Linked DNA regions of Homo sapiens. The protein of the gene in region 2 interacts with the protein of the main gene of each other region in a biochemical or structural test. Each region holds a gene or a part of one and is shown on either strand. Other genes may lie near its edges.

Region 1 (7,407 bases), on a different chromosome or scaffold from region 2:
ATAGAAAAGCTTTTAAAACTAAACAAATCAAACAACTTGAGTATAATGGAATTCAGACTTTGATTTGCCTAACATAACCACCATATTTGCAAGGACAGCTCTCTATCTTCTGGTGTTTATTCTTAAAAACTTAAAAGTTAGATTTAGCGATCACCAGAGCCACTACTTTTATGCTTAGGTATTTGTTTGACTTAGAAAAAATTGGTCACGTGTACCACTTTATAGTGCCCTGCAGGTGTTAAGATATGAAGGCACTTTGACTTACACCTCATAAAATCTTTACAAAGTATTTTCTAAATGAATAATGATGAAATAAAGTCTTTATTCTAGGTGCATCTGCCCCACATAATTTGTTTTCTTTGGACTAGAAGTTTTGATGTGTTGAGAATGGTAATGAATTAACTCCATTTTAAATGTAGAATGCGTATCACTCCAATATGAATGCCCTAATGAATCCTAAGATTTGTAGGTTTTGTGTACTAGTATGAAAATTACTAAAGATGGAAAAATCACATGTTGGAGACATAAGATACAAACCTTTTTGTTTTCTGAAAATACAACCTCTGATTTCTGATTCCTTGTTGTAATATGGTGTAATTATACTAGATTGTAATTTTGTTGTTAGATTATACTTTTTTAAGTTCAGTGTTTGAGGACAGACTTTCATTTGGTTAGTAGTATTATGGCAGCTAGCAGCTAAATATGATAAAGTGTACAATCAAAAGGATATTTTTAATGAAGATATTAGTGGTCTAACATGTCATTTCAGATACATAGCTGAAATGTAGTAAAATCAGTTTTACTACAAATAAACTTGCATAAGGTTTATAAATTTATAAGTTTATAAATCAACTTGGGTAAAGTGTAAATAAACTTGCACTCGTGGTTTCTCTGAAGTCTCCTGAGCTAACTTTGCATAAAGGTGTTATTCTGTACTTCGAGGAAGTGAATTATTGGGGTCAACCACATTTTTTTTCCTTCCTACAGTCTGATTGCCCTTTTTAGTTTTTAGGATCTTTGTGGCTGCATCATTTTTCCCCTTTTGAACTGTGCATTTTCTAACCCCATACTTAAATATTCTCATAACCTCCAAATTATTAATTAGATGCAACATTCAGTGGTATATTACTGGAGTTTCTGATTTCTGCCCACTATAGGAATGTGCTTCCTGAGAAGATTGGGATCGTGATTATAATAATAGTTAACAGGGGATGAGTACTTTCTAGGTGCCAGGCACTGTTCTCTCTGATACTTTATTTGATGTATTGTTGTTATTCCCATTCTTTAAATGATGCACAGAGAGGTTAGGTAAGTGACTTACTACCAAGTGTCAGGGCCATTAAGGGTCAGGATTCTGAATTCCTGAAATGATGAAATTTAGCTTGAAGAAATTGGTTTGATTTCCTGCTTAGTTTTCAATTTCATGGTGGTCTTTGATTGTATTTTGTGCTATAACACTGCCTTAGCATCCTATAACTATAGTTACAGTGTTATATTACCATTTTTTATTGTTAATACAAAGCCATCATGAAATAATTCAGTTTATGTGCCAGCTTTTTTTGTTACTAATTCTTGAACCTTGGCGCTGTACTTCTTCATGTGGATGCCTGTTAAGGAAAGATAAAGTTAGAAATCTTTGACCCTGCTAGGAAATTTGTCTTTGTTATATTGGGAGCTCATAAAACTGAAGTATTCAAAAGTTAGAATACATACACACAAGAAAAATTAGTAACTAATTTAATAATGTTTTCTTTGCACATGTCTCTGTTGTCTTTTGGTCAGAGTGAAGCTAAATGTGTTTTTCACATAATTTGTAGCCTATATGAAGTCCTGGACATGTGGTATGGTTGGAAGGACTGTTGATGAGGTTTATTGTCTCTCTTTATTCTTTTATGTTGTTAGTGTCCCCATACAACGGGGCGGGGGGAGTGGGGACAAAATGATAACTTGCTTTATATATGAAGCCTTGGGTTTGAATCATACTGTTATCACATTTCCTATGTCCCTATCCTGTCTCCTGCAGGTTTTCTTTCTTGGTTTTCTTTTTTGGTTTTCTTTCTTCCTTTCTTCCTTTCTTTTCCTTTCTTTCCTTTCTTCCTTTTTTCTTTCCTTTTCTTTTTTCCTTTCTTTCCTTCATTTCTCTCCTTTGCTCCTTTAGTTTGTTTCTTTGTTTCTTTGGTTTGTTTCTTTGTTTCTTTGGTTTGTTTCTTTGTTTCTTTAGTTTGTTTCTTTGTTTCTTTGTTTCTTTCAACAGGTCTCACTGTCGCCCAGGTTGGAGTGCAGTGGTGGGATCTCAGCTCACTGCAACCTCCACCTCTCGGGTTCAAGCCAGTCTCATGCTTCAGCCTTCCGGGTAGCTGAGATTACAGGCATGTGCCACCATTCCTGGCTATTTTTTGCATTTTTAGTAGAGATGAGGTTTCGCCATGTTGGCCAGGCTGATCTCAAGTTATCTGCCTGCCTCAGCCCTCCAAAGTGCTGGAATTACAGGCATGAGACACCGGGTCCAGCTTCCAGCAGGTTTTCTTTAGGAGGGATATTTTACAATGCTGTAAGTTTTTCCTAACGAGAATTATCATAGCACTACATGTTCTGTCTTCAGTAAGTGATACAAGCTTACTGATGATGTTGTAGTTATGTTCATTGGTGGTCGGGTGTACATTGAAACTTTAACACATAATAGCCTCTCCTGTGAGCAGTGGTTCCTGTTGGTAAGATACTTTACTAAGGGAAGGAATGTGAGGTGTCGCTGGGGAGAGTTTACCCAAATAAGGATGGACTTTCTGTCTTTGTTTCATCAGTCCTGGTAATAGAATGTTTGAATAGATAGCTCTAGGCATTACATACTTTCATAAATATGATTATTGTAATTACCTCTTTGGCCCAGTTGCTAGTAAATTAGGGACCCCTTAATGATTTATTTCCTGTTTATTCACCCTGATGAAGAACTTGTATCTCTTTTAAACTGTACTTTATCGCCTTTCTCAAATTCCAAGATTCTCATCACATTTTTTTTCTTCCCAAACTCTAAATAACCTTTTAATATTAAGTATCTTTGTGGAAACATTGTTTTCTTTTTCTATCCCAATTTTTAAAGCTTTTTTAAAAAAAAGAGTGCTTTTGTTGGGATGTACATTTTCCAAATGCAAAAACATTTATGATTCTGTGTCTCTTATAAAATATGACACTCTCTACTTTTCTCTCATTTATTTAGTGCCACCTATGTGTGTAATTTCATTACCCACAGCAGTCTTAGGAGGCTGGTCGAGTTCCTTATTTGCAGATGAGGAATCTGAGGTCCAGAGATCACTTCTTGGTGAGAGTCTCACAGCTATTAAGTATTAGAGCCAAGATTTTGAACGTAGGTCTGATTCACAGCAAAACCGTTAACCACTAAGTACACTGACTCCAGTAAGAGCCCTAGTCCTCACCCAATACACTTTAATTCCCCTGTGCATTCATTCAAATTCATTGAATTTGCTGCCTTTGGAAACCTCTCAGGAACCTCCTCAACCTCTCTTCTCTACAGACATCAGCTTTGCCTGATAGGTAGGGATCATAGCAAAACACAGTTTTCCAAGGTGGTGATAGGTGGAGTGATAGTGCTCTGGAGATGGCCAAAGAAGGAAGGTATGAGTGTATCTGTGGGTGGGTGAGTGGTGGATAAGGGGAAGGACAGAGCCAAAAGCGACGGCTATTGGAAAAACTATGATGAGAAACAGGAAGATGGAACCTTGTTGGAATTAGTGAAAGACCTTAGAATTCACAGGAGGTATTTGTCCTTCACGCGAGTGTAGACCAAACGTAACCTATGAGTTTCTTTTATTCCACTTATTAAAGCAGCAACCAAAGGTATTATATACCTTCTGTATTCACTTAAAATGACTGATTTTGAAAAAGTCATGCAAACATCCATTTACAGATAAGCCTCATTAACTCAAAGGCAGTGGCCCTGTTGGGCTCTGATGATTACTCAAACCATTTCTGACACTCTGACACTACATCCGGAAATCATCCGGAAATGCATTCAGAGCCTGCAAAAGCTTTTTTTTTTTTTTTTTTTTTTTTTGAATAGCTACAGCACTTGCAGATCTTCCTCCTTTGAGAGAATATTTGATTTTAGGAAATAAGCAAATGTAGATAAGTATGATTCAACTGGGCAATAACTTTTAGGCAAAGAGAAAAAAACAAAATATAGCAATGTAGTAATAAGGCTGATATTATAGTGCTTTTATGATGAGTCTGAAAACAGTCTCCAACATTTGTAAATGTTTTAAATCGGGTCTGTCTACTACAGTAGCCCTTAAGCCATATGTAGCTATTGAGCACTTGACATGTTGCAAGAGTGAATTGGAGACTGATTTTAATTTTATTTAATTTTAATGTAAGTAGTCGCACATGACCCGTGGCTACTATGGTAGATGGCATAGTTTTAGACAAGGGCAGTAGTCTTGGGTAGATACTTGATTTACTTAGAACATTTCTTTACCTAGCTGTAACAAGGTTCTAATAGCTGATTAAAGGACAACATTTTTAGCATGTAATATACAGTAAGGAACTAATGTTAATTACTGCCAAGATGTATAAACATTATGAAACCTTAAACAAGGATGAACACAGAAGCAGTGGCCCTTCTTTGTAAATAAGGGGTCAGTTACTTCCTAATAGGTGTCTTAGTTTTAGTTAATAATCTAATAGCACCCCCAAAAAGCAAACTGTTAATTTGTTATTAGCCATCCTGTAAAGACAAGGGAGAAATCGGGGCCAGGAGAGTCCTCTTTCCCATTCTCCATAATTTTTACGACCTATAGAAATAAGAGCCTAAGAGTGACCAGTTCCTGCAACCTAACTCAAAATTAGGCCTCTCTGTTGAAGTAATAGTGAGGCAAACAATCCCTTGAAGCACTGGGGCATGCACCCTTATGAAATCTAATAATTCTAAAATATCATTGGCAGTATTAAGCTAGAGTTCTCAAAATATGCTGTAGAAAATATTGGTCATTTAAATATAGCTGAGTAAAAATAAGCAAGATCAAAATGATAAGAAAATGTTGATTTCTCCCCTTTTGAACCAGTAACTAACTATAAGGGTATATACCCATGCTTAACTTAAAAATAATTATTTAGCCACCTTGGGTATAGCACAACATATGGATGCCATTATAGTCCACCTTGATCTTACAAGGAAGCTTTCTTTTAGCGTAGCTTTACTTTTATTTAAGCATTATTGAAGAAGCTTGGTATCTCTGTTTAAGTTGCTTCTGTATCAGTGTTTTCCAGGGCCCTGTCTCAGCTTCCATAGTTTTTCTTAAGAGCAGCTAATTAATGCTTCACTCCATATGCTTTAATTTGATATTTTGGGAAGTTTCATTTTTTAAAATAATCTTTTTATATCATAGGCCTTTGAAGACATATTTGTTTACAAAGACATCTGCATTGAACCATTTGTTTTTAAAAACATGTATCGGGCATGTTCTATATACCAGAAACTATGCCATTTACTGAGGACACCGAAGTTAGAGAATGGTCTTAATCCGAACTAGTTATTGTCTCACTATCCAATATGGATATCAAACATTCAGCGTCATGAGGATTTACTACTGTGTTTTCTCCCAAGAGTTTTATAATTTTAGCTCTTATATTTAGGTCTTTGATGCATATTCATTGATTTTTTTTTGTATGCAGTATGAGGTAAAGGTTGAAACGTATTCTTTTTGCATGTGGGTGTCCACTTGTCCCAGCTTCATTTTTTGAAAACACTATACTTTCCCCATTGAATTGTCTTGGCTTCTTTGTTGACAAAGGATTTATTATTTCTGCCACAACCCAGCTGTTTCTCACTGTCTAAACCTTTATGCCTGCTGCCCCGTAGGCTTAGTGGAATGCCTCTCCATCCTCCACTCTCTTTTGTTTAGCTAGTACTTCCTTATCCTTTAAGGGGTCAGTAGGAACCTCACCTTCTTCAGTATGTTTTCCTTTGTCTTATCAACCTACCACCATCACCCACACACATACCTTTTCCCTAAGGCTGGGATAGGAACCTCTTAGGCAATGATCTATTTGATAAGTACTCACTGAGTTCATACTAGACACTCTGCAGTATATCCGTAAATGAAGTAAAACCTGACACCACCCTCAGAAAACTTACTGTTAGTGAGAAAATGGGCTATAATAATAGAGTGGGGTAAGTTTATTGTAGGGATAAGCATAGGATGCTATGAGAATGCAGAGGACAGGAATTTAACCTAGACTTCTCAGTTCTCCCGTTGAAGTTGACATCTGAACTGAAATCTGGAAGACCAGTAAGAGATAGCTATGTAAAAAGAGGGGAAGGACAATAGGAAAGAAGGAATGGAGAGAGGCCCAGAAACTACAGAGTATGGCACAAGTAGTTTAGCATTGTTGGGTCACAAATTCTAAGGATATGAAAGATAAAGTTGAAGAAGTGGTGGGGCTGGGGAGGACAGCTCCTGTAGAGCCTTTTACAGCGGGAGAAGGAGTTTGGCTATGGTCCTGCAGGCAGGGAGAAACCACTGAAGGGGAGAAACATACAGAATAAATTTGAGTAAGAAGCTTAAATCTCCCCAAGCCCTTTTAAAATAAATTAAGATATAAAGCCTTTGGGTTTCTTTATGCTTTGTCCTATTCTTCTAATTGTCCAAAACAAAACAAAAACCTTCCTTTTCTGTACCTATTAAAAGGTTAATTTTATAAAGTTACAGACAGCATGCTGATTAAAGAATTCTTGATAATTAGCTATTTTGTCTGTCTTTGTGTAGATTACTAACAATTGTGTCATCAGATTTAAAAGATCTAAACCTCTGGACTTTATATATTTTTTCTACAAGTACTGTGAGATTGAGAACTTAATTCAACTCTAGTAACTGGACTTTTTAGTGTTGTTTGCAGCATATGATTGTTAAAGAAAGTTTAGTATATTTGTGTGTGCGTATATATATATATATAGATAGATAGATAGATTTGAGGTTATATTTAATCATTGACTATTGGTATTCTAAGATTTTAAGGAGAGAAAGGTAGGTTACAATATATGGCTGATATATGGTTCTGGAACAATTTTCTTAGTTTTCAGTAATTCTACCTAAAATGTACGTCCAGCTTTGCACTCACTACCACATTGTAATTTCCAGTATACTTGTCTATTTTTCGAGATGTTGAAATCTGTGGAGAATTTTTTCTCATGTTTAGTGTTTTAGCTATGTTTATCTCTAGGGTATAGCACATACAAGGTGGCAATATAGATGTGCTTAATGAATAAAATGATCTTCAAAAACTGACCTTCATTTGAAGTTCTATTTTATTCATAAACACATAAAACGTTTGGTATCACTGTAAAATTTAACTAAAAACAAAAACTATCTTTAAGCTCACAAGTTAATTTAACGT
Region 2 (8,630 bases):
GTTATAAATCTTCAGCAATGTTATATTGTAGCATTTGCTACTTTATATTGCAACTTAACTGTTTATGTTTCTCCCACCTGTCTGTGCTGCTTCTGTATGGCAGTGACTCATAAAGGCAGTAGTAATCTGCGGGGCTAAAAACACTATCTTTCTAGGAATTGTGAGTTTCATGTAATTCCTGCTAGGTCTCGAACAGACTAGGCATGAGGATCTCCTAGGCTTTCAGGTGGCTTCTACTAGGTCTTTAATTGGGGACTTACTATGTTAAAATTTAGAATCACAAAGGTTTAAAGGCAGAAAAGAGCACTGGAGGGAAAATTTCTGACTGAAGGGCTTTCACCAACTCATTTTAGTTCTTATATCCTGAGTTTGCTCTTACACTTGGGGTTCTCTGTTAACTGTCACTGACAAACCATTTTTCTTAGTATTCAAATCTATGTACTTAGTTACTTGTAGAAGCTAAAAAGAAGTAGATGCTAAAACATGGACACACTATTGTTAAATCTGTTCTATAGGCTTCACCTAAAATAGCAGATTAGGGAAATATTTAGTGCTGAAAAGTTTACAATTCTGAAAATGTGATCTTCAGGGGGGTACAGAAGATCTATGTAGACCAATCTGTTCAAGTTTACATTATTTTTAAGCGCAGTTTTTTTCCTTCTTAAGGTTTTAATCTTCATTAGAACCCCTATAAAAATCAGTATTTTAAAATATAACTTCAAAAGTAGCTACCTGGCGGACTTAAAATAATTTTTGTTCTTCAATGGCCAGTAGCACACAAACTATTAGATTTTGCTGATTTGAACTTGAATGTTCCAGGGCTTTCTACAGAGTAGTGATAATGTTTAAATAATGCACTAAATGGTACCTTGTAAAGCTTAATTATATGCATGGAATAACTTCACGGGGAGAAGAAATTTGACTCTGAATTTATCTAGATAACAATTTTACTCACTCTGCATTTTTGTTTTCTCTCTTCAGAGGTTCATTCTCCTTTAGGATGATATCCCTGATCACTGTGAGTGGAAATATAAAATTCTACTCACAGGAGAAAGATTCAAAATGTTGATCTCTGGACATTTTGAATTTTTCTCTTCCATCTCCTCCTTTGTTTGTTTGTTTTTAACAGAAACCTGTCACGGGGTACCTAATCAGTTGTGTTTTTGTTTTTGAAAATGTATCTTCTGGCTGGGCGCAGTGGTGGCTCATGCCTGTAATCCCAGCACTTTGGGAGGCTAAGGCGGGTGGTCAGGAGTTGGAGACCAGCCTGGCAAAAATGGTGAAACCCCGTCTCTACTAAAAATACAAAAAAATTAGCCAGGCGTGGTGGCAGGCCCCTGTAATCCCAGCTACCTGGTGAGGCTGAGGCAGGAGAATCGCTTGAACCCAGGAGGCGGAGGTTGCAGTGAGTCGAGATTGCACCATTGCACTCCATCCTGGGCGACAGAGCGAGACTGTGTCTCAAAAAAAAAAAAAAAAGTGTCTTCCATGGAATTAATGTTGCATAGCTTAACTCTCTCTCTGTGCATATGAAGAAACTGAAGCACAGAGAGTTTCAATAATTTGCTCAGAGTTATAAATGGCAGAACCAAGAATAGAGCCCAGATGTCTAGAATAAAGATTCAGTACTCATTTCCACCAAAAATTAACAGAAGTGACCGCATCTAATTTAAATTATTGATCAAAAGTGACACATTTAAAAATTGAAAATTGGGTTGAAGCATTTTGTGGTGTGTAAATTTACTTTCCTAGTCCAGGAAAGATAAAGGGCTTATTCTGAGGGGTGATCCTATTAGAATCAAATAAATCTTTGCCTTGCAGTGAATCAACTAATTGTGTACTAGGCTTATCTGAAAATCTGGTAAATTCTGTATTTTTTAAGGTTTAAGAATACAGTTGGCCCTCCATATCTGTGGGTTCTGCACCCTTGGATTCAACCAGTCACAGATCTAAAATATTTGGAAAAATAAAAAAAAATAAAAATAACAATACAACAACAAAAATAATATGAATAAAAAATAAAATATAATTTTACATAGCATTTACACTGTATTAGGTATTTTAAGTAGTCTAGAGATGATTTCAGGTATGCAGGAGGATGTGTGTAGGTTATATGCAAATACTACACTACACTATTTTGTGTCAGGGACTTGAGCATCAGTAGACTTTGTTATCTGTAGGGGCCCTGGGACCAATCCCTTATGGATACTGAGGGATGACTGTATCTGAAAAAGTGGGACACTGTATTGTGTGTCTTTGCTTCTTTTACCCAGTAGTTTGAGTTGAAGACCCTTTAAGGTAGCATATGAAATAGCATTTCCATTTTGTTCTGAAAGAACATGTAGTCTTAGGAAGCCCAGTTTTCTAACACCCAGGTGTTAGCCATGGAGTACTCCAGGTTTTGTTTTGTTTGTTTGTTTTGAGGGCAGAGATGGGATGGAGAGGATAAACAAAGGTCTCCTTCTTACCTCTTGAATTTCACTTTCCCCTTTGGGGTTATCTCCATTTGATTATTGGTGCTATCACCATGCTAACATCCTCTGGCCCAAGTGCATACATAACTCCTTTCCCTTCATTTCACCTTTGAACAACTAAGAAAGCCTACAGCTTATTAAGGTCTTTGTCAAAATGTAGAACTGGAAAACAACCATGGGATAAATAGAAAAAAATAAGAAGCATAATGACAGTATAGGTTATAAAGTGATTATTGCACTCTTGTATTCAAGGGCCCACTCTATTCCACATTACTTTGAAGATAGCTACTACAAAGATGTGGAACAACTTCAGGATATTTTGCTGGAATTTCTAATTCCTAGTTTTTGACCTGTCCACAGATGAAGGGCTTCTTTTCACATTCCATTACATAGAGGCTTCTTCTCAAACACATTAATGATCATGACTAAGAAATTCAGATACCCAGCCTGCAGCCACTGCTGTGCCTTTGTTTGTTTGGTTCTAGTTTTCTTAGAGACACACCTTTTTTCCAGGAGATTGCTGGTGAATGATCTCACTCTTCAGATGAGAAACATTGTGTAGCAGCATCAGTACAACCTCTGCAGTAGCAGTAATGTAATTATACCTTCTTATACTAGTGGTAATAGACATAAAATATGAGTTTATGCATATAATAAGAGGGTATTAGAAGTTTTGCTCCCTCACCATTCCAGTACATCTCTTAGAAATAGGTAAATATTTGTAGAGAATATTGGTAGTTCTTTATAAGGTTTAATATTAAGTGCAGGGTTTTTAAAATCTAGAATTATGATATACCTTTAATTACCATGCTTCATGGCCTTTAAAGTAAGTCACATGTACAAGACAGGCAGATATAAATAGCTTGGTATACTCTTTTGGAAAGGATTCGAATCATTAAAACACTTTTTTAGATGCTGAAGAACATTAGAGGAAACCAATTGCTTTTTTTTTTTTTTTTTTTTTTTGAGACGGAGTTTCACTCTTGTTGCCCAGGCTAGAGTGCAATGGCGCGATCTTGGTTCGTCGCAACCTCCACCTCCCAGGTTCTCCTGCCTCAGCCTCCCAAGTAGGTAGGATTACAGGCATGCGCCACCACGCCTGGCTAGCCAATTGCTTTTTAATCAGATTTTAGTGGAGCTTATTGGAGACATCCTTCTATTTTGAAATATTTTCTATTTCTTTAATGAACATTTGTAACTATCTCTTTGGCTTATATTGTTTGTGAAATGAAAATGTTCAAAGGTAATAAGCCTTGCCGACTTTCTGTCTCAAAATATGTTACATATTGCTTTACAGCTTCTGCTGATACTGTAAACTGCGAAAAATGACTGGATGTTTTGTTAAACTGTGCAAGTGTTCAGGTTTCAAGGTGCTGTTTGCAGTGATTTTTTTTTTTTTTCTGGTGACTAACCTATAAATCTAGTTTCAACTGCCTGTAGACTTGACTGCCTTAAGCATAAAGGGGGTATAAAAAGAAACTTGCTACCTCAGCAGGTTGAAAATAATTTTCTCCTTTCATACAGCAGCATTTGCTAAATCAACTAAAATTGCATAGTAACATTTTAAGAACCATAAAAATATGACTATATCAACTTTTTTGGCTTATGTTTTCTCCTTTTGACAAAAGAATATTGGCATTTTGACTTATCATGTTTCAGTTAAGTGCCATCAGTCTAGAAATTCATTCTTTCTGAAAGGTCTAGGATATAGAAGTAGCCGAAGAACAGTATTGCCAGATAAATTTTGGAAGAAGAATACTGAATGCCCAGAAATTTTCATGTAAAAATTTGAGAAACACTTGTGAAGTCATAGCACAGCAAAGAAAAGCAAACAAGATGGGGCAAAAATGTATGGTAATAATGTAAAGTATTAAGAAGGGTGTGAAATCAAAGACACTGATAGCAGAAAAGAAACAGGTTGGTGATGGACAAAAGGAGGAAAGAACTGCATAGACAGAGAGCCTATATGTACCATAGCACTGGAACTCCAATAGGATTCACATCTCTATTGGATGGATGTGAGTGTGTGTATGTACTTTTCACATGTAGTACAATTTTATGGCCTTAAAAGTAGAGACAAATAGCAGTATAGTGCTCTTGAATTATAATATCTTTACAATAATAAGTAAGGCATATACAGAGAAATATGTAACTCTATACAATAATATGTGCACTGAAATACATTTAGTAAATATTTATACCTCCTGTACACAAAGCACTGTGTTGCTGAGCTATGATGTACAAGACAGGCAGAATTTAAACATGATATACACTGTTATTTTACTTGCAAGATTTTGTTGAAACACATCTGAGAGCAGTTAACCCAGACTTGGGAAGGTTGGAAGCCTTTCCAGTACTGATGATGTATAAGCAAGGTTTTTGTATATGTCTTCTTTAAATATCATGTCTTGTGCTCTTTGGCTAAGGAAAAAACAAGGCACTGTATATGTTTTCTTTAAATATTGTGTCTTCTGATATTTGGCTAAGGAAAAAACAAGGCACATTCATCAATGCACTCATTCAACAAATAATTCGTTTTTGTTGTTGTTGTTGGTTTGTTTGCTTTTTTTTTTTTTTTTTGAGACGGAGTCTCGCTCTGTCACCCAGGCTGGAGTGCAGTGGCGGGATCTCGGCTCACTGCAAGCTCCGCCTCCCGGGTTCACGCCATTCTCCTGCCTCAGCCTCCCAAGTAGCTGGGACTACAGGCGCCCGCCACTACGCCCGGCTAATTTTTTGTATTTTTAGTAGAGACGGGGTTTCACCGTTTTAGCCGGGATGGTCTCGATCTCCTGACCTCGTGATCCGCCCGCCTCGGCCTCCCAAAGTGCTGGGATTACAGGCGTGAGCCACCGCGCCCGGCCCTGTTTGCTTTTTGAGACAGAGTCTCACTCTGTTGCCCAGGCTGGAGTGCAGTGGCATGATCTTGGCTCACTGTAACCTCCACCTCCCAGGTTCAAGAGATTCTTCTGCCTCAGCCTCCTGAGTAGCTGGGATTACAGGTGCCCACCACCACACCCAGCTAATTTTTGTATTCTTAGTTGATATGGTTTGGTTCTGCGTCCTCACCCAGATCTCATCTTGTAGCTCCCATAATCCCCACATGTTGTGGGAAGGACCTGGTGGGAGATGATTGAATTATGGGGATGGGTCTTTCCCATGCTGTTCTCGTGATAGTGAATGGGTCTCACAAGATCTGATGGTTTTAAAAATGGGAGGTGCCCTGCACAAGCTCTCTTTTTGCCTGCTGCCATTCACATAAGATGTGGCTTGTCCCTCTTTGCCATCTGCCATGATTGTGAGGCCTCCCCAGCCATGTGGAACTGTTAAGTCCAATAAATGTCTTTCTTTTGTAAATTGCCCGGTCTCAGGTATGTCTTTATCAGCAGCATGAAAAAGGACTATTAGAGACAGGGTTTCACCATGTTGGCCAGGCTGGTCTTGAACTCCTGACCTCAAGTGATCTACCTGTCCCGGCCTCCCAGAGTCCTGGGATTACAGATGTGAGCCACAGTGTCCAGCCTCAACAAATAATTCTTAAACAGCATATTGTGGCAGGCACTTTCTTAGTATAGTCAGATATAGTCTTATAGAAAAAAAACCCATTAATTACATATTCAAACATACTGCATCTATAAAGAATACTAGAGAGGAGAAGAGACATCATTCCAAATGCATGTACTAAGGGGGAATTAGCCTTTTCATGGTGGTCAGAGAATAGCAGAATTACTAAAGGGGAGTTCGTGTTTTCATGGTGGTCAGAGAATGCTATCCTGAGATCTGGAGAATGAGTGGTAACTGACTAAGTGAGGGGAGCACAGCATCTGCAAAAGTCATAGGGCACTAGGGAGCATGGTGAATACAAACATCTGAAGGACCTGGGTGGCTAGAGGGCAAGACAGAGGGACAGTGTAGTGAGATGGAATTAGGAGCTACCTAGGGACAGGTCACATAGCTTGGACCTTGTTGGCCATGTTAGGATTTATTTTTATTTTGAAGGCAATAGGAATCAGTTGAATAGTTTTAATCATGATGTGAGGGTTATGGTGGGAATAACATCATGGTTTTGAAGTATCCTTGGACTGAAGAAAATGGAGCTGGGCAGGACTATGAAATAGATGGTGATGGTTGAGATAGAGAGCAGCAGATCGACTTGACAGATATTTGGAAGGTAAATGGACAGGACTTTTTGACAGATTGGACATGAATGTGACACAGGAGTTGTTAAAGGCTTGATTTCTAGGTTTTGGACTTGTATCCTCAAATCAATTACAATTCAGTTAGGGACTGTTAGAAGACGGTCGCATTTTTGGGGGTTGGGTCATGAGTTAAGTTGGTCATTACTTGAGTGTGAGGTCCCTTTAAGTCATCTAAAATAAGATGTTAGGCATTAGGAAATACCAATCTTGCACTCAGAAGAGAAGACTGGGCTAGAGATAAATTTGGAGTCATTCCAGTATAGGTGGTGATTGAAATGGTGCATGGATAAGATCATCTAAGGCTGCAGCTGTCCGGTATGGTGGACATTAGACAAATATGGCTACTGATCACTTGAAATATGTCTAGTCTAAATTCAGATGTGCTATAAATGTAAAATACGCACTGAATTTGGAAGACAGTACTAAAAATGAGTGTAAGGATCTCAGTAATTTTTATATTGATCATACTTTAAAATATATTTTGTTAAAATAATTATTAAATTAATTTCACCTGTTTTTACTTTTTAAAATATGGCTACAAGACAATTTAAAATTACATATGTGGACATTATATTTGTTGGACAGTACTGATGTAAGAACCAAGCTTTGAGTAAGAGGCTAGGTTCAAGTACTGAGAAATTTTAGCATTTTTAGAGGAGAATTAGCCTTTAAGGACCTGCTAGTTAGGGGAAAAAGCTTTAGAATGCATTATAAAGTCATTGAGTTTTCTAAGAACAGAAAATGGACATATCTTTTGGAGTTCTTTGATAAGACTATTTGATATGGTCACTGTTAGTTTATTGACTTGCTGATATTGGAGACTCAGAGCACCTTTTAAAACACTCTTTATAAATTTAGATATCTGAAAGTCTTTTAAAAAATTCCCCACAATCTTTCCCCAAATTCCTCTAAATATATAAAATACAAATAAAATTTAGCTGCAGCTTTTCAGAAGGCAGTCTGTCATGGATATTACATGAAGATGTTAAGAAAACAAAATTTTATTTTATTAAATTTCTAAGTGGGACCATGAAGAGTTTAAAAATTAATAAAGGTGGATTTTGTAAAATACCTAATGTGAAATAATAAATGTAAGTATTGATGGAAAAACTTGCTAAATAAATTAAGCCAGTATTTTATAATGAATTTGGAATTGACTCAGTTCAAGCTTTGTTTTGAGAGAGAAATAGGGACATATGTTAAGTTTAGGTGTCCATAACATTGATAGTTTGATTGATGCCTTATGACTTTGTAAGCTTCTGTAAGGGAAAGATCAAGTCTTCATATTTTTGTAGTATTCCAAGCATTTAGCACGATGTAAGGTGCACAGTAGACACTTAAATACTTGTGGAATGAATGTTACTCTCATCTTAGTTGGTCTTGGTATCATTCATCATTTTGCTTTTGTGTCCTCAAGGGACATGAAACTTCTTCAAGCTTTTTGTAGAGTAGAAAATTGTTATTTCTGAAATGAATGTTGTGAAATTTAAACAAAATGTTATGAAAAATGTGATCTCCTCAGAAATGCAGGAAATAGCCTGTTATAGAAAGCTTTCTCTATTTGTTGATATTTTCTACCTTGTTTATAGAATTCAACTGTTAAGAGATATAACTAGTGATAATGAAGATAATACACTTAAAGGTATATGTTTGTATTTAGTTAGAAGAAAAGTTTGAAATATGTTGATAACATTTCTTTGCCCGAGACAACCAGCTGTCTCTTTAGGGTCTTTGAAATGTTCTGTTTCAAGGTAATATTAGTAGAAACTGTTTTCAGAACTATTTCTTTCACATTTGATGTTTTATGAGATAGCAACAAATTCTTTTCTTTTTGATATTTCAGAATTGCTTACAGCTTAGCACTTCAGTGATATGGTGTGGCTGTGTTCCGACCCAAATCTCAACTTGAATTGTTTCTCCCAGAATTCCCATGTGTTGTGGGAGGGACCCAGCGGGAGGT

The links.
Region 1: the proteins of TDRD3 (region 2) and FMR1 form a complex in vitro, tested with the Homo sapiens proteins (one study listed by BioGRID).

Annotation. Positions count from the first base shown.
Region 1 is NC_000023.11:147,914,512-147,921,918, forward strand, and holds part of FMR1 (fragile X messenger ribonucleoprotein 1), read left to right. Parts: intron 1-7,407.
Region 2 is NC_000013.11:60,399,275-60,407,904, forward strand, and holds part of TDRD3 (tudor domain-containing protein 3), read left to right. Parts: intron 1-8,630. UniProt on the Homo sapiens protein: Scaffolding protein that specifically recognizes and binds dimethylarginine-containing proteins. Plays a role in the regulation of translation of target mRNAs by binding Arg/Gly-rich motifs (GAR) in dimethylarginine-containing proteins.